2 linked regions of the Homo sapiens genome follow. The protein of the gene in region 1 interacts with the protein of each later gene in a pairwise test. Each region holds a gene or a part of one and is shown on either strand. Other genes may lie near its edges.

Region 1 (10,161 bases):
ATGCAAATCAAAACCACAATGAGATACCATTGCACACCAGTTAGAACGGCGATCATTAAAAAGTCAGGAAACAACAGGTGCTGGAGAGGATGTAGAGAAATAGGAACACTTTTACACTGTTGGTGGGACTGTAAACTAGTTCAACCATTGTGGAAGACAGTGTGGTGATTCCTCAAGGATCTAGAACTAGGAATACCATTTGACCCAGCGATCCCATTACTGGGTATATACCCAAAGGATTATAAAACATGCTGCTATAAAGGCACATGCACACATATGTTTATTGCGGCACTACTCACAATAGCAAAGACTTGGAACCAACCCAAATGTCCATCAATGATAGACTGGATTAAGAAAATATGGCACATATACACCATGGAATACTATGCAGCCATAAAAAGGATGGGTTCATGTCCTTTGTAGGGACATGGATGAACCTGGAAACCATCATTCTCAGCAAACTATCACAACAACGAAAAACCAAACACCACATGTTCTCACTCATAGGTGGGAATTGAACAATGAGAACACTTGGACACAGGAAGGGGAACATCACACACCGGGGCCTGTTGTGGAGTGGGGGGAGGGGGGAGGGAAAGCATTAGGAGATATATCTCATGTAAATGAGGAGTTAATGGGTGCAGCACACCAACATGGCACATGTATACAGATGTAACAAACCTGCACATTGTGCACATGTATCCTAGAACTTAAAAGTATAATAAAAATAAATAAATTAATTAAATTAAATTAAATAAGATAAATGAATAAAATGCACCACATGTTAAATACTGATAAGTGCTAAGGATTAAATTAAGGTAGGGAGGGGAGTTAGAAGGGTCAGGGATTGCCATCTTAGATAGTGTGCTCTGGGGAAACCTCAGAAATTGAGCTGCTGGCAACATGGTCTGAAGGAAGTGAGGAAACACTCAGAGAGATGTAAAGTGTTCTAGGCAGGAGAAGAACAATTGCAAAATCTGTAAGCATGCCTGTCAATTTTTAGGAAAATCATAGAAACCAGAGAGCAAAGGACAGAGTGATAGAAGATAAACTCTGACAGATAATAGGAGTGAGAGATCCAAGCACAACCTATAGGCCCATATAAAAACATTGGCTTTTACCCTGAATGGAATTGGAGGTGTTTGAGCAGAGTGGCATAATTTACGTATGGTTTAACAGAACAACTCTAGCTATTGTATGGAGATTAGCTGGAAAAGAGACAAAGGAGAGATGCAAAGAAACCATTTAGGAGGCTTCTACAGTAATTTACTCAAGAGATAAAAGTGGTAGTAGGGTGGTAGTTGGAGGGATGGTAGGAAGTGGCATGATCTAGGACGTCCTGATGGGATGGCTATGGAGCATGAAAGGAAGACACTCCTTTCCAAAGGAAAGGACACTTAATTCCAAAATTCTGGTTTGAGCAAAAGGAAGGATGGAGTTACCGATTACTGTGATGGTTAATACTTGGAGATAATTGGGTTTGGGGAAATACGAAGAGCTCGAATTTGGACCTAACGTTTGAACCGCCTATTATTATGTTGAAATATATAAAATGAGAAATATTCAACTATTCTGACCTATAAAAATGAAAACTACATGTGTTTCAAATTAACAGATATTCAGGAGAAAACACTGACAATGCAATTGTTTGTTCATAGGGGAGGTACAGGAGGGACACACATATCTGAGAGTCACCAATATACAGATGGTGTTTAACATAAAAGAGTGAAAGTTGACAGGAAAAAAAAGGCCAAGAACTGGCTCCTGGGATATTCCAACCTTCAGAATGAGGGGAAAAAATAAGAAGATGCCAAAGACAGACTGGGAGAGTGAAAGATCTTGGATGCCAGGGGGGTAAATGTTTAAAGGAGAGAGTGATTGCAAGATGAGGACTGAGAATTAACCATTGGATGTAATAATATAGGGGTCATTAGTGACCTTAGTAAGAGGGTTTATAGATGACTGGCACAGACAGGAGTCTGATTAGAATGGGCTCAAGAGAGCATGGGAGGAAGGAAATTGGGGAATGTAAGTATTGTTGACTAACTCAAGAGTTTGGGTATATAAGGAGAAAGTTGGTGCAGAAACTGGAGGAGTTTAAGTCAAGTCAAGAGTTTTTGTTTAACACAGAAGAGGTTTCCTCTCAAATTATATATTGAAGATACTGATTCAGTAGTTAAAATTTGATGAGATAGCTAAAATTTGATGATCCAGGACAGAGACAGAATTACTCAAGTAATGTTCTTGAGAAGGCAAGATGAGATTAAATCAACTGCACAAGTGGAGGGGGTGGCCTTTGCTAGGACCATGAACAATTTATCTAAGGGAACAGGAAAGAAGAGAGAATATGTAGTCCCGATGCAACTATATGGGCCGATGTGATTATGGGAATTTTGAAAAATATCTTCAGATTGCTTCTATTGTCTCAGTGAAAAGAAAGTAAGGTGATCATTTAAAAGTGAAAATAAGAGATTAGGTATTGGAGGCTTGAGAAGAAAAGAGAAAGCAAGCAATATTCATCTGGAAGAGTGAGAGAATGAATGGACTAGAGCAATATAGTAAGATCACTTGGCAGCATTAGGAACCCACTGGAGGTTGGTGATCATGATTATAAAGTGAGACTATTCAAAGAGATTGAGTGTTTTTCTCCAGACACATTCAGCCATACAAGTAAGGGCACTGAGTAGGCAGATAGATTTAACCAGCAAAGCAGTAGACAGGAAAGAAAGTTGAAGATATAAATATGACAATGATTATCAAGGCTGTCCGTGGAATTTAAGTTCCCAGTAAAGAGGGAAGTGAGAACCTGATGATATCAGTTTCCATTAAAAGATGGTAGGATAAAAGGATTTTTCCAGAGAGAATGAAAAATGGATAGATTTGGATATTTTTTAAAACTGAATTAGAAAGTTAGAAGGTGGTGCTGTGAGAATAAAATGTTGAAATTGTGATTATAAAGGGATTACAACTTGGGGTAACAACAAAGTCAAGGGTATGAGTCAGTGAGGTAGGAGGCAGAACAAAATTGTGAACTAAGAGGCTAGGACTTCAGGGGGAAAAATCTATGAAAACATTAAAATTACCACAAATTACATCAGAAGTAGATCGGCTGGGAATAATAGTGAATCAGGTGCTAATGTCTTCAAAAACTGTGGGAGAATGACAGAGATATTTGCTACACATATATCTGATGAATAACTGGTATACAATATTGTGAACCTGAGTTTTTTAAAAGTAAAAAAATAGAAGATAGGAGCATTTCAAATAAGAAGATACAAGAATAGTAAATAAGCATATGAAAAAATGATTCACTTTAGCCATAAAAAAGGATGAGTTCATGTCCTTTGTAGGGACATGGATGAAGCTGGAAACCATCATTTTCAGCAAACTATCGCAAGAAAGAAAAACCAAACACCACATGTTCTCACTCATAGGTGGGAATTGAACAATGAGAACACTTGGACACAGAAAGGGGAACATCACACACCGGAGCTCGTCAAGGGCTGGGAGGAGAGGGGAGGGATAGCATTAGGAGATATACCTAATGTAAATGACGAGTTAATAGGTGAAGCACACCAACATGGCGCATGTATACATATGTAACAAACCTGCACGTTGTGCACATGTACCCTAGAACTTAAAGTATAATTTAAAAAAAGGAAAAATGGTTCACTTTATTGGTAATCAGAAATGCAAAATGAAATAGCATTTTACTACAATAGCTTGAAAAAGATTTAAGAATGTGGCAATAAGAAATGCTTGCAAAGATTTAGTGAAATGGAAACATACTCTGCTCACGTGAATGTAAGCAGGGAAAGCCATTTTGAAAAAAGAATGGGGAAAGGGGTATTACCTGTTAATTTGAAAGGCATACACAGTACCAATTAGTGATCTACTCCTACTTTCCTCATAAAAGTGTCAGGAAAGAGTCTTTGATTTAAAGCCAGCTATATCTGTGCATTTGATTCCCACATCCAACACAACCTGGGTATTTGATTTTGAAAAATTTGCTTTACCAGGGAAGTGAGGATGGTTAATGCATACAAAAAAAAAACACAAAGAATGAATAAGACCTACTATTTGATAACTTAAAGAGTGTAACTGGTGTGTTTGTAACTCAAAGGATAAATGCTTGAGGAGATGGATACCCCATTTTCTATAATGTGCTTATTCACACTGCATTTCTGTATCAAAACATCTTATGTACCCTATAAATATATACCTCTACTATATACCCACACAAATTTTTTTAATTATTTTTTTAAGAAAAATTTGCTTTACCACTGAGCCTCAGGTGTTGTGAAGAATGAAGAAGATCGTTTTTAAAATACTCAGGACTGGCAGGGCATGGTGGCTCACGCCTGTAATCCCAGCACTTTGGGAGGCCGAGGCGGGTGGATCACCTGAGGTCAGGAGTTCGAAACCAGCCTGGCCAACAAGGTGAAACCCCCTCTCTATTAAAAATACAAAAATTAGACGGGCATGGTGGTAAGTCCCTGTAATCCCAGCTACTTGGGAGGCTGAGGCAGGAAAATCACTTGAACCCGGGAGGCGGAGGTTGCAGTGAGCTGAGATCGCGCCATTGCACTCCAGCCTGGGGGACAAGAGCAAGACTTTGTCTCAAAAAAAAAAAAAAAAAAAACTCAGGGCTGGGCACGGTGTAACCGCAGCACCCAGCACTTTAGGAGGCCGAGGCAGGCGGATCACTTGAGGTCAGGAGTTTGACACTACACTGGCCAACATGATGAAACCTCGTCTCTACTAAAAATACAAAAATTAGCCAGGCGTGGTGGCAAGTGCCTGTACTGCCAGCTACTCGGGAGGCTGAGGCAGGATAATGGCTTGAACCCGGGAGGCGGAAGTTGCAGTGAGCCAAGATCGTGCCACTTAACTCAAACCTAGGCGACAGAGTGAGACTCCGTCTCAAAAAAAAAAGCTCAGGTCAGATGCAGTGACTCACACCTGTAATCCCAGCACTTTGAGAGGCCGATGAGGGAGGATCGCTTGAGCCCAAGAGTTCAAGACCAGCCTAGGCAACATGGCAAAACCCTGCCTCTACTAAAAATACAAAAAAAAATAGCCAGTATGGTGGCACAGGCCTGTAGTCCCAGCTACTCCGGAGGCTGAGGTGGGAGGATCACCAGAGCCTGGGAGGCCAAGACTGCAGTGAGCTGAGATTGCACCACTGCACTCCAGCCTGGGAGACAGAGTCAGACTCTGTCAAAAAAAAAAAAAAAATTCAAGAATCATGGAAATATAAGTGTTCAATTTAAAAATTAATTTTATACGGCCAGGCGCGGTAGCTCACGCCTGTAATCCCAGCACTTTGGGAGGCTGAGGCGGGCAGATCACGCGGTCAGGAGATCGAGACCATCCTGGCTAACACGGTGAAACCCCGTCTCTACTAAAAATACAAAAAAAATTAGCCGGGCGCGGTGGTGGGCGCCTGTAGTCCCAGCTATTCGGGAGGCTGAGGCAGGAGAATGGCGTGAACTCAGGAGGTGGAGCTTGCAGTGAGCCGAGATCGCGCCACTGCACTCCAGCCTGGGCGACAGAGCGAGACTCTGTCTCAAAAAAAAAAAAAAAAAGAAAAAAAAATAATTTTATTAATATTGTTTTAAATTTTAATATGATTAATAATTTTATAACTTTTTAACTTTCAGGATGAAACTATTCACAAATGTTTCACTTTTTTTTTTTTTTTTTTTAGACAGGGTCTCACTCTGTTGCCCAGGCTGGAGTGCAGTGGCACCACCACGGTTCACTCCAGCTTTGACCTCCCGGGCTCCATCGATCTTGCCATCTCAGCCTCCCAAATAGCTGGGACCACAGGTACGCACCACCACGCCAGGCTAATTTTTGAATTTTTAAATTTTTCATAGGGACCGAGTCTCACCATGTTGCCCAGAGTGGTCTTGAACTCCTGGGCTCAAGCGATCAGCCTTCCTCAGCCTCCCAAAGTGCTGGGATTACAAGCGTGAGCCACCACTCCCAGCTTCACTCAGAATTTTAAAATCAATTTTCCCAAGTAGAAATCTGTATTTTCTGAATACTCCTAAAATGAAATAATTTAGTAGCATTAAAGGAATTGTATGTAGCATTTGGATGGGTCGGAGAGATCTGAGTGGTCTTTTCTCTAGAATCCCTGAAATCACAAGAAAACATGAGTTCTAAAGGCGAGCCATCTTTGAAATTCTATTACAGTTGTTATCATTTTTTCTGAATAAGTTATACTGATCATTCTGCCCCCTAGAGGCCTGTAAGAGTATTTCCCCAGCGTGTCCGACCAATTATAGCCACGGATACTGGACAGCACGGATACCTCCGCCTCTAGAGCGGGTCCTCCAGGGGGCGGAGCATTGCGTGACATTTTGCGACTTCGGTTCCGCTGCCGTCATTTACAACATAATTGGCTTTGCAGTGCGCATCCGGGTCTGCATCAGGAAGGCCCAAGGGTCCAACGAGCTAAGCTGAGCCCGGTGGCCGGCGAGGCACCACCAGCAGCCCAGACTACGGTCCCCCAGGAGGCGCCCCGGGAGCTCCGAGGACTCGCCCCGCGTCGCGCGGTCCTGCGCCCCGCTCGTCCCAACCAGCCTCCCCTACCACCGACATCTGTTACTTCAAAGAGGACTTCACCGCCGCGCTCCCCACGTCCGCTGCTAGGCCCAGGAGCGCCGTCCACAGCGCCGTCGAGGCGATGGTCAGCCGGCCCCGCAGCCCCAGCGCCTTCCCTGCTCCCTGGTGGGGACAGCAGCCAGGAGGACCCGGCCCTGCCAAGCGCCTCCGATTGGAGGAGCCCGCGGGCCCCGAACCCCGCGCGGCACCCAGCCTGGAAGACCCGGCGGGGGACCCGGCCGTGGACGCGCTCACCTCCATAGTGGTCCTGGCCGCGGGCTGTGCCCTGCGTGTGCCCCTGGACGACGTCGACCTGGTGCTGGAGCCCGCACCAACGTCGATCCTGCGAGTGTCTCTCGGTGGACACACCCTCATCCTGATCCCAGAGGTCCTCCTGAGCTCCGTCGACGAACGCTCAGGAGCGCAGCACGACTCGTCTGCCGGGCTGGAAGTGGACGTTTTCCTGGGCGCTGTCAGGGAGGACGTCGTCGTCGAGCTGGAATTCTGCGCATCTGTCCCAGAGATCGCCGCCCAGGAAGAGGCCTACGAGGAGGACGCGGACCCCGAGTTCCCGGAGCTCCGGATGGACTCCCCAACCGGCTCAGCCGCTGGGCTCTACCCCTCCTCTAGAAGTATGTTCATCCCCTACCGGGAGGGCCCCATCCCAGAACCCTGTGCTCTGGCCCCCAACCCCAGTTCAGAGAGACGTTCTCCACGCCCCATCTTTGACCTGGAATTCCGCCTTCTGGAGCCTGTCCCCAGCTCACCTCTCCAACCTCTACCTCCCTCTCCGTGCGTGGGGAGTCCAGGTCCCCACGCGCGCTCGCCGCTCCCGGAACGCCCTCCGTGCAAGGCCCGGAGACGCCTGTTCCAGGCATAGACCCCCACCCCCACGTACACACAACAATCCTGGCCGCTCTGCTGGAGGCCCTCTAGGATTGCGGGAATCTCTCACATTGAGTATCCAACAACCTGGAAATTGGGCACCGCGTGTTCGGACAATTGCTTTTTCGCTGCACACTACCGATAGTAGGAGATGAAGACGTCAGCAAGAAAAGGTATATTCTAGACCTCATCTTTAAATAGAAAATCTGCGCAAGGATACCAGAAAATGTGTCCAGATTTCTGGGCTTCTTTACAAGGTCATATTCAGATCCCTTCATTCTCCCTCGTTTTGCATCAGTTGTTTCTCTCAAATTCCAGTCTTTCTCCAGCATCATACTGCCACTCCCGTTTCTCCCCAAACCAAGAAATCACCAGATCTCTTACGTTGTTAGTTACCTTGCATTTTTTTCCCATGAATTTTGGAAGACTTAGCCATGGCTTTTCTTGGGGTTTTTCCAACTGCTCTCCAAGGAAACTGCCAAATAGTATGCTTACTATACAAGACTGTATGTTGCTTCTTCCTAGGAACCCCTTATCCTGCTGAAGTTTTCTTCTAGTCTTCTAATTCTAAATGAAAATTTGTGTTGAATTTTATCAGATGTTTTCAGCATGCATTGTGTTATGTATTTTTTTTTAATTTGTTAATCTGGTGATTTCACCCAATGGAAAGTGTTTGCATTCCTGCTATTCCACATTATTTTATACCTTTTAAAATCTACCCTGAGTTTTTTCTCATGTAAACCAAACTTCTAACTTTTAAAATGTTAGTTTATTACTGTAGTTGCCTCATATTTTTATATAGGAGATAAAAGATTACTGGTAAAGCTGATGTCAACAAGCTGGTTTTATTTTATTTAAAAACATCAATAACTATTCAGATCTACCACTATGCCTTACCAATTATTTCCTACATTTTTATTCTTACATTCCACTCCTTCACTGTAGCTTCAGTTTTCTTTTTGTGAAGAATATCCTTTAATATTTCTTTCCACTGTGTCTTACGTGTGATAAACTATCTTGCTTCTGTAAGTCTGAGCATGTTTTTGTGTGATAAACTTTCTTAGAATTGACTGTAAATGTTTTAATTACACCTTCATTCTTAATTTTAAAATGATATTTAACTACAGTACTTTAAAGATATTAGCCCGTTGTTTTGCCATTTTTTGTTGTTGCAGGATGTCTTCTGTCAATCAAGTTGTTAGTCCTTTTATATGTAATTTGGCTGTTCGTGTGTGTGTGTGTGTGTGTGTGTGTGTGCGTGTGTGTGTAGAGAGAGAAAGACTTTAAGACAGGGTTCACTCTGTCGCCCAAGCTGGAGTGCAGTGGTGCAATCACGGCTCACTGAAGCTTCAACATCCCAGGCTCAAGTGTATTTTTTGTAGGAACGGGGTTTCACCATGTTGCCCACGCTAGTCTGGATCTCCTGGGCTCAAGTGATCCACCCACTTTGACCTCCCAAAGTGCTGGGATTACAGGTGTGATCCACCACATCTGGCCAATTTTAGTATATTTTTTAAAATGTTGATTTGCCTTTGGTGTTCTACAGTTTACTGTAATGTGTCTAGGGGTAGACTATATTTTCATTTAGCTTGATAGAATTTAGTTAACTATCAATATTGGAAACTATTTCTTGCCTGAAATACCACAAAATCTTAAGTTTCATCTCTTGGAATATTGCCTATATCCCCATGAAATCCAATCAGATGGGAGGCTGAGGTGGGTGGATCACCCGAGGTCAGGAGTTCAAGACCAGCCTGGCCAACATGGAGAAACCCCGTCTCTACCAAAAATACAAAAATTAGCTGGGCGTGGTGGCACACACCTGTAATCCCAGCTACTTAGGAGGCTGAGGCGGGAGAATCGCTTGAACTCAGGAGGCGAAGGTTGCAGTTAGCTGAGATTGTGCCACTGTACTCCAGCCTGGGCAACAGAACAGGACTCTGTCCAAAAAAAAAGAAAAAAAGAAAGAAAGAAAGAAAAGAAGAAATCCAATCAGATATATAATGGCACTGCTCAATCAATCTCCCCTGGCTCATAACATCTTGATATCTTAATATACATGTATGTTTGTGAGTGTATGTACACCTTATCAAATCGAACTTCCTGTATTTTTTTTTTTTTTTGAGATGAAGTCTCGCTTTGTCACCCAGGCTGGAGTACAGTGGCCCGATCTTGGCTCGCTGCAACCTCTGCCTCCTGAGTTCAAACGATTCTCCTGCCTCAGCCTTCCAAGAAGCTGGGATTACAGATGCTTGCCATCACACCCAGCTATTTTTTGTATTTTTGGTAGAGATGGGGTTTCACCATGTTGGCCAGGCTGGTCTTGAACTCCTGACCTCAAGTGATCCACCCACCTCGGCCTCCAAAAGTGAGCCACCACGCCCGGCCCCAACTTCCTTTATTCTTTAATCCAATTAACTACTCTGGTTGACTGCTTACAATATTCTGTTTGTTTTGTTTTGTTTTTTGTTATTCTGTTTATAGTTCTATAAGAAAGTTTTCATTTCAAAGAATTTTTTTTTCAGGATTTCTCAAGATTTTTGCTTCAAAACTTCCCACTTGGTATCACAAACTTCTAGTTTGTTCATGGAAGGTATTCCATCATTTATGTTTTGAAAATTTTTTAACTTTAATAGCTAAATTGATTCAATTTCCCCACAG
Region 2 (10,166 bases), on another chromosome or scaffold:
CGGGTGAATCACTTGAGGCCAAGAGTTCAAGACCAGCTGGCCAACATGGTGAAACCCTGTCTGTACTGAAAATACAAAAAATTAGCTGGGTGTGGTGGCAAACACCTGTAATCCCAGCTACTCGGGAGGCTGAGGCAGGAGAATCACTTGAACCTGGGAGGGAGAGGTTGCAGTGAGCCGAGATTGCACCACTGCACTCCAGGCTGAGCAACAGAATGAGAAGAAAGGAAGGAAGGAAGGAAGGAAGGAAGGGAGGGAGGGAGGGAGGGAGGGAGGGAGGGAGGGAGGAAGAAAGAAAGAAAAAGAAAGAAAGGGAAAGAAAGAGAGAAAACTAGGGAACAAAAAGGTAGATATGGGTCCAGGGCTCCTGAGTGCCAGGGTGGGGCTGGAGGGACATAGTGGAATCACACGGAGTGGCCAAGGGAAGTCTCTCTGCCATGAAGGAATTAGCCCTGTCGATATCGGGGATGAGCATGCCAAGCAGAGGGAACACCTGGGCAAAGGAACAGGGACAAGGCCAGTGGGCCAGGAACTGAGGGACAAGGGGAAGAGAAGCAGGAATAAGCAGAGAGGTGAGGGGAGGGGCAAGTCACACATGATGTCATTTAGCGCTGCAGTACACCATGAGACAGGTCCTATATTATCCCCAGTTCACAAGTGAGGAAGCCGAGGCATGGGGAAGATAAGTATCTTGTCTGAGGTCATACAGCTTATAAGTGATGAAGCTGGATGAGTTTGGCTACAGAACTAGCCAAATTTTACCAACTGCTCCCCACCTGCCTCTGCCCCCATCTGGTTGGCAGATAATTACTCCTAGAGCCCAGGTAGGGATGTATGAAGTCTCTGGAGAGAAAGCTCAGATGGAAAGGGGTGCACTTTCTCAGAACCCTCTTTTCACCCCCGTGCTCTGGTGTTAGACACAATTTACAGAGAATCACAGGCCCAGCTGGAGAGCCCAGTTGCTCAGTGTGAGATAAGAAGTCCCTGTGGATGGATGGTCTACACCAGGGTTTGGTCCAGGTCCAGCCAGGAACTCCATGGGATGAGGGGCTCACCACTTGTGTGCTCTGGTTGTTCCCTTGGAGGAATGCAGGGTACCCATAGTTCCCTCTCCACTAGACCTGAAGCATCCCTGCCAGATCCCCCCCACCCATAGCCCCTCCAGCCTCACCTTATACAGGTAAATCTTGCTCTGAGAATCCTTGAGATCCAGCTCCAAGTCAAACTTTGCATTCCCATCCTTGGTGACCCTGATGTGTCTTAAGCTGGAGATGGTGTTGATGTACTACAAAGCAGACAAACACCCAGCAGGAGAGCTCATGAAGCTCTCTCTTCGGGGTACTCTGAACCCTCATAGGCTCTGGTACCATCCCAGGCCCACAGCGTTCCAGATGAGCATGCATTGGCCCCTTTTACAAGTGGGGGAAAGTAAGCCCCTCAAGGAAGGAAATTCTCCAAGATGAGAGATCAGATCAGGAAGACAACCAAGAAAAGACCCCAGGTGTTCAGTTGCTAGAACACAGTGGGGCTTTTCCATCTATCTGTACTTCTAACGAACATTAGTTGAACACCTACCGTGTGCAAAGCTCTGTGCTAGGTCCCGTGTTAAAGCCAATGAGAAAGCTTGGAGGAGAGAAGGCTGAGACCCTAGGTGTTAGGTTTAAGGAAGCTTATCTTTCAAGGGGATAAGATACTATTTTCAGGATAATAAAAACTAGTTGTTTTCCATTTTCAGAAGAAAAATTAGACTTATGCTATAGTTAAGTTAGACACAGGAAAGAAATTCCTGTACAGCTGATAAGATTCTGGGATCAGAGTGCTAATGGGAACTGTGAAATTCCCTTCCATGAAAGCCTTTAGAAGTAAACCAGGTAGCCAGGTGCGGTGGCTCACGCCTGTAATCCCAGCACTTTGGGAGGCCGAGGCAGGCGGATCACGAGGTCAGGAGATCGAGATCATCCTGGCTAACACGGTGAAACCCCGTCTCTACTAAAAATACAAAAAGTTAGCTGGGTGTGGTGGCAGGCACCTGTAGTCCCAGCTACTCAGGAGGCTGAGGCAGGAGAATGGCGTGAACCTGGGAGGCGGAGCTTGCAGTGAGCCAAGATCCGGCCACAGCACTCCAGCCTGGGCGAAAGAGCAAGACTCCATCTTAAAAAAAAAAAAAAAAAGAAAGAAATAAACCAGGTACCTCCCCCCCGCAATCTGGTGACAATGATAATGATAGCAAAAATCAAGGCACTAAGCTAAGTACTTTAATTACATTCTCTCATTTATCCTCCCAATAACCCTACAAGGTAGGCATGACTATAATTCCCATTTTACAGATGAAGACACCAAGATACAGAGGCCCTAACCCTTCCAAAGCTCCAGAGTTTAGTAAGTATCAGAACCAGGTTGCAAAGGCAGGACACCAACCTGGGATCCCAGGGCCTTAGCCAGATACCCCACTGGGGACTAGATGGAGACAGGCCCCTTGATCATACTTGGTTTCCTAAGTTCTGCCTCCAAGCCCACCTCCAGGTGTGAGGCACCTATGGTCCAGGTGTGTGGGGTGGGCATGGAGTGAGGGGTGGGAATGGGGTGAGGCACCTGTGCCATCTTGTCCTCCTGTTCCTTCTTCATCTCCTGCAGCCTGCGCAACATGCCACGGTAGTCGACGATGCCATACTTCAAGCAGATCTTCTCGTAGTCCTTCCTGTCTGCTGTCATCAGCAGCTGCCATATCTGCTCAAGGTCCATCTTTTTCTTGGGGGCTGGTGGGGCCCTGGGGAGCAAGGCTAGCAGGTCAGAGGCCAGAGGAATCCCTGCTCCTCTGTTGGCCACCTGGCTCTGGTGTCCCAAGTAGTTCTGGGAAGCTGCTCTATCTGCACTCGAGGAAACGCAGAGCCTGGAATCTCTGGGACTGACCACTGTTGAGGCCAGAAGGATTCAGAGATGGGTGGGGCGAGCCTCAGCCTCACCCCACAACTTTCAGGAGAAATGCTCCTGACAACTTGTATTGTAGATTTCTAAGTAGGATGTCTGGGGAAAGTGGGTGTTGCATTGTTCTGTTGCTTAAAAAAAAAAAGTACATCATTGTTCTGGTGGACCACCACATTTTGCAAATGAGGAAATCAGAGGAGAGATGATTAACTCAAGGATATAGAGCTTTGAAATGGCAGAGCTGGAGCTCTGTCCCATTCCCATCCAGTTCAGTCCCCTTCCCATCCTCCCATCTGCTACTGGCAGTCTAGCTCCCTGCTGTGTTGGGTAGAGGTGGGGCTCAAGCCCAGCTTACTTATGGAAATAGCAGGGGGTGAATACTATGGGAGCCTCCAAAATCCCTCATGGACAGGCCCAAACCCACCTCTTTTTCAGCAACTTCCGGAAGTCCATCAGCTCCTTCCTGAGGTCTGAAAAAGGAGCAGGAATGAGGCCTCAGTCCCAGGTGGGATGACTGAGGGTTGATGCAGAGCTTTTCTGTGTTGTCCATGCTGACAACTGAGCCTTTGGAAGGGGCTCTCTTGAAGACTGGTGGTGATCCACAAGGTGTTCATGGTAGCTCAACCAGGCAGGGAACACCAGGAAAGGAGTAGCCTATCCCCCACAGGCCCCCAAGGAGGTTTCTGACAAATCTGCCTACCTTCCTGCGGTTCCCTGTGCCTCTTCCGATTCTTCCGAAAGCCAACTGCAACATCCAGGGAGGAGAGGAAGGAGTCGATGTGGACAAGCAGGGAGAGAAGCAAGACATGTTGATGGTCTTCCTGAGAAACTGATGGAGTCCCAGAGCCCTGCTCTCCCCACTGTCCTCTAAGGCGTGGACGATCCCAGCAAGAGGGATGGAGCAGGGTGGAGGGTCTGTCCATCATAAGCCTTTTTACCCTAGAGCCTTACCATGACCAAGGGGACCAACCTAAGCATCATCTCATGCAGGGGAGGCCCAGTCATGTGTCCGCAGGGGCCAGGGAGGTGGCATAAATGCGTGAAGCAGACACTGGCAACCACAACAAACTCAAGAGTATCTAAAGGGGCAGCTGCTCTTTCACTCCACCTGGGAGCTGCCATTTCAGGGTATAGGCCCAATATTGCCAAATAGGTCAGACATTGCTGTTTGGCTAATCCTGCAGCCATTTGTATTCTTCATCATCTGCTTCCACTAGAGAGGCTGAAAAAGCTAAACACTCACCTTCCCCAGCTTCCCTTGCAACTAGCAGTGCTCATGTGACACTGTCCTGACCAATGAGCTCCAGGAATTTCTGAGAAAGCCTTTGCTTCCTCTATAAAAAGGGTGGATGGACTGGTCGTGATGGTTCATGCCTGTAATCCCAGCATTTTGGGAGGCCGAGGGGGGAGGATAGCTTGAGCCCAGGAGTTCCAGACCAGCCTGGGCAACACAGGGAGACCCCGCCTCTACAAAAAAAATAAAAAAATTAGCTGGGTGTGATGACACATGCATGTAGTCCCAGCTACTTGGGAGGCTGAGGTGGGAGGATCACTTGGGCCTGGGAGGTCAAGGCTGCAGTGAGCCATAATCACACCACTGCACTCCAGCCTGGGCAACAGGTCTCAAAAAATAGAAAATAAAAGGCCAAGCACAGTGGCTCATGCCTGTAATCCCAGCACTTTGGGAGGCCGAGGCAGGTGGATCACCTGAGGTCAGGAGTTCGAGACCAGCCTGGCCAACGTGGTGAAACCCTGTCTCAACTAAAAATACAAAAATTAGCCAGGCATGGTGGTAAACGCGTGTAATCCCAGCTACTCAGGAGGCTGAGGCAGGAGAATTGCTTGAACCCGGGAGGCAGATGTTGCAGTGAGGTGAGATTGTGCCACTGTACTCCAGCCTACGCGATGGAGCAAGACTCCAGTCCATCTCAAAAATATAAAAATAAAAATAAGAGAGGCAGATGGACCTGGGCCACCTCTTCCACCTTCCTACCTTGAACATGGATTATGTTTGAATCTGCCACAGCCCTCTTATGGCCATGAGGTGATAAGCCAATCTGCTAAGGATGGCAGAGCAGTGGGAACGAAGGAATCAGCTCTCCGATGGCAGCCCTGAGCTGTGGTATGAGCCCTGGACGCCACTCGCAAAACTTCTTATGTGAAGGAATGAAATATCGTTATTTCTTAGGCTGCTCTTAGTAGGATTTTCTGTTAGTTGCAGGCAGATCAATTGTAAGCATAACCAATGGCGAGACTAGACCTGCTTCCTCAAGAGATATCTACCTTTTAATTACTACAGGTTGACAATTTTTAAAATTTCAAACACCACGCACACCAAAAAAAACATGTCTGAGAGAGAATTTGGCCTTTGTGTGACCTGTTTGTCAACTCTGGCATAGGCCTGTCCAAAATATCCTTTGCATGGTGGAGAAACTGAGACCCAGAGAGGAAAACGAAGCCCATTGAATGAGTTAGCAGAAGCTCTAGGACTAGAAGCCAGCTTTCAGGTCCTGCTCATTTACTGGGCCAAGAGAATATCCTTCAGAGTATCTGCCAAGGTGTGCCTTTTTAAACACATGCAGACTCAGTGTGCATGTGGATGAAGCCCGGGGCCCAGCACAAGGTGGGGCTGCAGCAGCGGCAGCAGCCTGGATGGGCCTCCCTTCCCTCCCCTCCCCTCCCTCACTAGCCACGGGGCATCTGATTCCTCTGTGGGTCTCTGCCCTGTGCACTGATGAGACAAACTCAGGGAAAAGCCCACCTTCGATGACAGTGAGTCTCACTGAGCAAGCGGCCTCTCCGTACGCATTTACTGCTGTGCAGCGGTACAGATCCGTGTCCTCGCCTGTCAGCTTGTTGATCTGCAGAGAGGCCAAGGGCAGAGGAACAGGGCTACCACATCCCCTTCCTCCATTTACTAGACACGGCTATGTGTTGGGGGTATAAAGTGAGTAAGACATGGTCCTTGTCCTCATGGAGCTCACAGTCTTTATCAGGAAAGACAGACCCCAAAACAGAAACCTGGTTTGGGACAGAGGGTGGATGTATCAATTCTTTGCCATCAGAGGCAATGTAGCGAAGTAGAAAGAGTGTGCTTTTTGGGGTCAGATGGATCTGGGCCTGAAAACAGTCTCTGTCCTGTATTACTAGCTGTGGGACCTTGGGCAAGTTACCTAACTTCTCTCAACTTCAGTTTCTTCATTTGTAAGATGGGAATATAATACCTCAAAAAAGTGGTGAATAATTAGAATTAAATATATAATCTATGTCAAATATTTAGCCCCTGGGACATAGTAGGGCCTGGCACATAGTAGGTATCCCATGGTTAGTATTTATAATATTGCTCAGATTAGCCAAGATTGATTGAGTACTCACTATAGGCCAGGCACTAGCTAGACACTTTACATAAAACTTTCATCCTCATAACAACTCCTGGCCAGGCGCAGTGGCTCATGTCTGTAATCCCAGCACTTTGGGATGCCGAGGCGGATGGATCATTGTTGGTCAGGAGTTCAAGACTAGCCTGGCCAACATGGTGAAACCCCAACTCTACTAAAAATACAAAAATTAGTCGGGCGTGATGGCGCATGCCTGTAATCTCAGCTACTTGGGAGGCTGAAGCAGGAGAATCGCTTGAACCTGGGAGGTGGAGGTTGCAGAGAACCAAGATCACGCCATTGCACTCCAGCCTGGGCGACAGAGTGAGATCCATCTCAACAACAACTCATAACAACTCCTTAAAGTAGGTACTATTATTATCCCATTTTTACAAATGAGGAGACAGAGGTAAAAAGAGTAAAATGACTTTCTAAAGCCAAGGTGGTGGGCCTGGGATTGTAACTCCAGCAGTCTGACTTCAGAGCTTGAGCTCTTAAGCTCCAGTCTACACCACCTCCCAGGTTATCAGCAGAGGTATCTGCAAGCCTGCCAGATCCATTCTTGGCTCAGGCAACTTTGAGTCACGAGATGGAGTTGAATGGATTCAACCTCAACGAGGAGTATGTCTTACTCCTCTAGGGATTGGAGGCTGCCAAAGAGACCTTCAAGGGGATGGGAAAAGACGAGTAGACCCTGGTCAGGGGAAGAGCTACGGTTCTTACCTGCAGCACGTGCTCCTTGCTGCCAGGGCTGGAGGAGATCTTGTACTTGCTGGAATCACTGAGGTCACCTTTGGAGTTCTGCCAACGCACCTCGGGCCTGGGCTCCCCACAGACCACAGCCCGAAAGACAGCATTTTTCCCTGCAGCAGGAAGAGACGAGTAGGGAGACTGACAAGTTGGGAGAGGGTGACTGTATACTTTATTTAAATTTTAATTTATATCGTCTTCCTCATCTAGGTATTTCAACTGCCCCTTCCAAAAAGGATGCCAGGCCTTGGTCCCCTTGACTCAGGACTCAGAATACGCAGGTGGAAAGCAGCAGATTCCAGGCACCCAGAAGGCAGTGCTTCCTCTTTCTATATTGCAGAAGCTTGGGCTGCTTGAGGGAAAGAGACAGGTGGACTGGCCCTGGTGAAAGGGGAGGCCAGCAGGGCTTTAGGGGACAGGGGCTTTTCTTTGAGAGTGGGTGAGCAAGGAGTCTGAAGGCTCTGCCAAGACTAGGAAGGGAATGAGATTTTGTGAGTTCCGGGCAGGCGCAGGGGCTCACGCATGTAATCCCAGCACTTTGGGAGGCCAAGGCAGTCGTATCACCTGAGATCAGGAGTTCGAGACCAGCCTGGCCAACATGGTGAAACCCCATCTCTATTAAAAATACAAAAAGTAGCCAGGCTTGGTGGCATGTGCCTGTAATCCCAGCTACTTGGGAGGCTGAGGCAGGAGAATCACTTGAACCCCAGAGGCAGATGTTGTAGTGATCAGAGATTGCGCCACTGCACTCCAGCCTGGGCAACAGAGCGAGACTCCATCTCAAAAAAAGAAAAAAAAAAAAGAAGAGATTTTCTGGCTTCCCTTCCTACTCTCTAGGGGGAGGAGGAATCACAACTAGGAGAAGGAGTGACTATTTGGTGCCCGAAGGATCCGGTGCTGAGACACAGGCTTCAGCCTCAGAAAAGACCCCATGCTCCATGCCTGTCATGGAGGCCTGGGAACTGCCCGCCCTCAAGGAATCCCTCAGCCTCCCACCAGGAACATCTCAGTAGACAGCAATATAGACCAAAGGCCCAAGGGCCCTTCCCAATTTCTCATTACCTTGTTCCAGATTTAGAAAAATAAAATACCATTCTTTTTCTTATTACCAGGATGCTATGAACTAAAATTTATTGCAGGGTGTGTGTTGGGGAAAGAACACCAATTCCCACTTTTTCCCCAATAAGCCTTTGTTCCCACCACTTTCTTGGACACCTTCTTATGTGGCCTTCTAGAAGGGCCTTCCTGAGCCCAGCCTGTGAGCCACAGCAGGTGCTGCTGCCTGGAGGCGAGGATTGGGAAGAGTCAAATTAACTGTTTTAACAGTGCCTCTCTGCAGCAGTGGCTTTGAGGTGAGGAGACAGGGACCAGGAAACACCACAACCTCTCCCTGCTCCCCAGTTTAGCATTTTTCCATCCCTGCCCCCCAGATATTTCTCACACCAGAATAGCATGGTGTCTCTTCACTCTCTTTATCCACTCTTTTCCCCAGGCCTCTTGTCACTTCTAGGGTTCCAGGTAAGCACATACCCCCTCAAGGATAGGAGGGAGATGGGCTATGGCCTAGTGATGGATATAGGGCCTGGGTCCCCAGGAAGGTTGGTGCCCCAGCCCTCTCCCCTGGGAGGTAGGAGAGCAAGAATCTTGCCTCCCCTCCGCAGCTCCCCTCTGGGCTCACCCTCTGGCAGAGCCGAGGTGACGGGCTTCTGCTCAAAGTCCGGCGTGCTGCAGCCTTCAGGGATCTCCTCCACCAGCTGCCAGATGCTCACTCCAGGGATGTGGGACTTCCGGAGCTTTCCTGGAGAATGCAGGAGGGAAGGAGATGGGGCCTTCCACCTTCTTCCTCCTGGGTGGCCCTTCAACAGAATGGGCATCCACCCACTCACCCCAGGAGCAAGAAGCCCCTTCTCGCTCCTACTTTTGGGTCAGGATTATTTGTAGTACCTCCTGCCTGTGCACAGTGCTTTTGAATTCTCTAGTGGGAATCTGGTGGCACACACTCTGGCAGTGTGAATGGAGCCTCTAGGAAGTGGGTGGGGCACCCTAGGAAGACCCTGAGTGTGTCACTGGGGAAAAGCTGGGAAGAAAGAGTGAGAAAGGGCTCCTTCTCAGGAAGCCAAGAAGCAGGAGCTCGTGTGGGGGCTTTGCACTCCTTACTCAGGAAAACAAATCAAAACCCAAAGCCAAGACTCAAAAAAAAAGCCAAGCACGGTGGCTTACGCCAGTAATCCCAGCACTTTCGGAGGCCGAGGTGGGCAGATCACCTGAGGTCAGGCATTCGAGACCAGCCTGACCAACATGGTGAAACCCCACCTTTACTAAAAATACAAAAATTAGCCAGGCATGGTGGCAGGCACCTGTAATCCTAGCTACTCAGGAGGCTGAGGTGGGAGAATCACTTGAACCTGGGAGGTGGAGGTTGCAGTGAGCTGAGATCGCGTCACTGTACTCCAGCCTGGGCAACAGAGTGAGATTCTGTCTCAAAAAAAGCCAACAACAATAAAAATAAAATAAAATAAAATAAGGAGAAAAAAAACAACAACAAGATGGGCAAGTTCCCAGAAATCTCTGATCCCTACCACTTCTCTCCTCTCTGTCCTGGTAAGGATCGCCAGGGAGGGCTGGGGAGGGGAGATTAGTTCTTCTCTTACCTGCCATAGTTCTGCCTCCTCTTTGACTCCTCTGAGGGTAGAAGTTCTATTACCCTGAGAACAGAAATGGAATTGCTTTTGAGAAATCCAGGCTGGTCTCACCCCACCCCTCCCACACCATCAGTGCATCAGCCAATGTCTGGGGTGGGAGCTGGAAAAAGCTGCTGCCCCCAAGAGCTTTTCTAACCCACTAATGGCACTGATTAGTTTCCTGCAATTCCCTGTCCCCAGCAAAACCAATTTCCCAGAGACCAGGGAGTGGGTAGCATGCTACCCAGTTGGTAACATTCCCAGGTAAAGGGAACCATAAGCTGAGCCTGCACACTGTGCTGGTGGCCTGGCCTCCTGGTGGGACCCCAGACCTGATTACCCTGCCCAGAACATGAGACACAACCCTCCCAAACCTGAGGAAATCAGACCCATTCAGGATCCTTTCAGCTGTGTAAGGATTCAGCTGTGAAAG

The links.
Region 2: the proteins of PRR23B (region 1) and IGFN1 interact in binary tests that used the Homo sapiens proteins (3 or more experiments, as listed by UniProt).

Annotation. Positions count from the first base shown.
Region 1 is NC_000003.12:139,017,198-139,027,358, reverse strand, and holds PRR23B (proline-rich protein 23B), read left to right. Parts: upstream 1-6,432; 5' UTR 6,433-6,697; coding exon 6,698-7,495; 3' UTR 7,496-8,328; downstream 8,329-10,161.
Region 2 is NC_000001.11:201,192,838-201,203,003, reverse strand, and holds part of IGFN1 (immunoglobulin-like and fibronectin type III domain-containing protein 1), read right to left. Parts: intron 9,758-10,166; 5' UTR 9,711-9,757; coding exon 9,704-9,710; intron 8,851-9,703; coding exon 8,731-8,850; intron 7,166-8,730; coding exon 7,026-7,165; intron 5,787-7,025; coding exon 5,687-5,786; intron 3,671-5,686; coding exon 3,626-3,670; intron 3,396-3,625; coding exon 3,350-3,395; intron 2,768-3,349; coding exon 2,593-2,767; intron 1,286-2,592; coding exon 1,172-1,285; intron 1-1,171.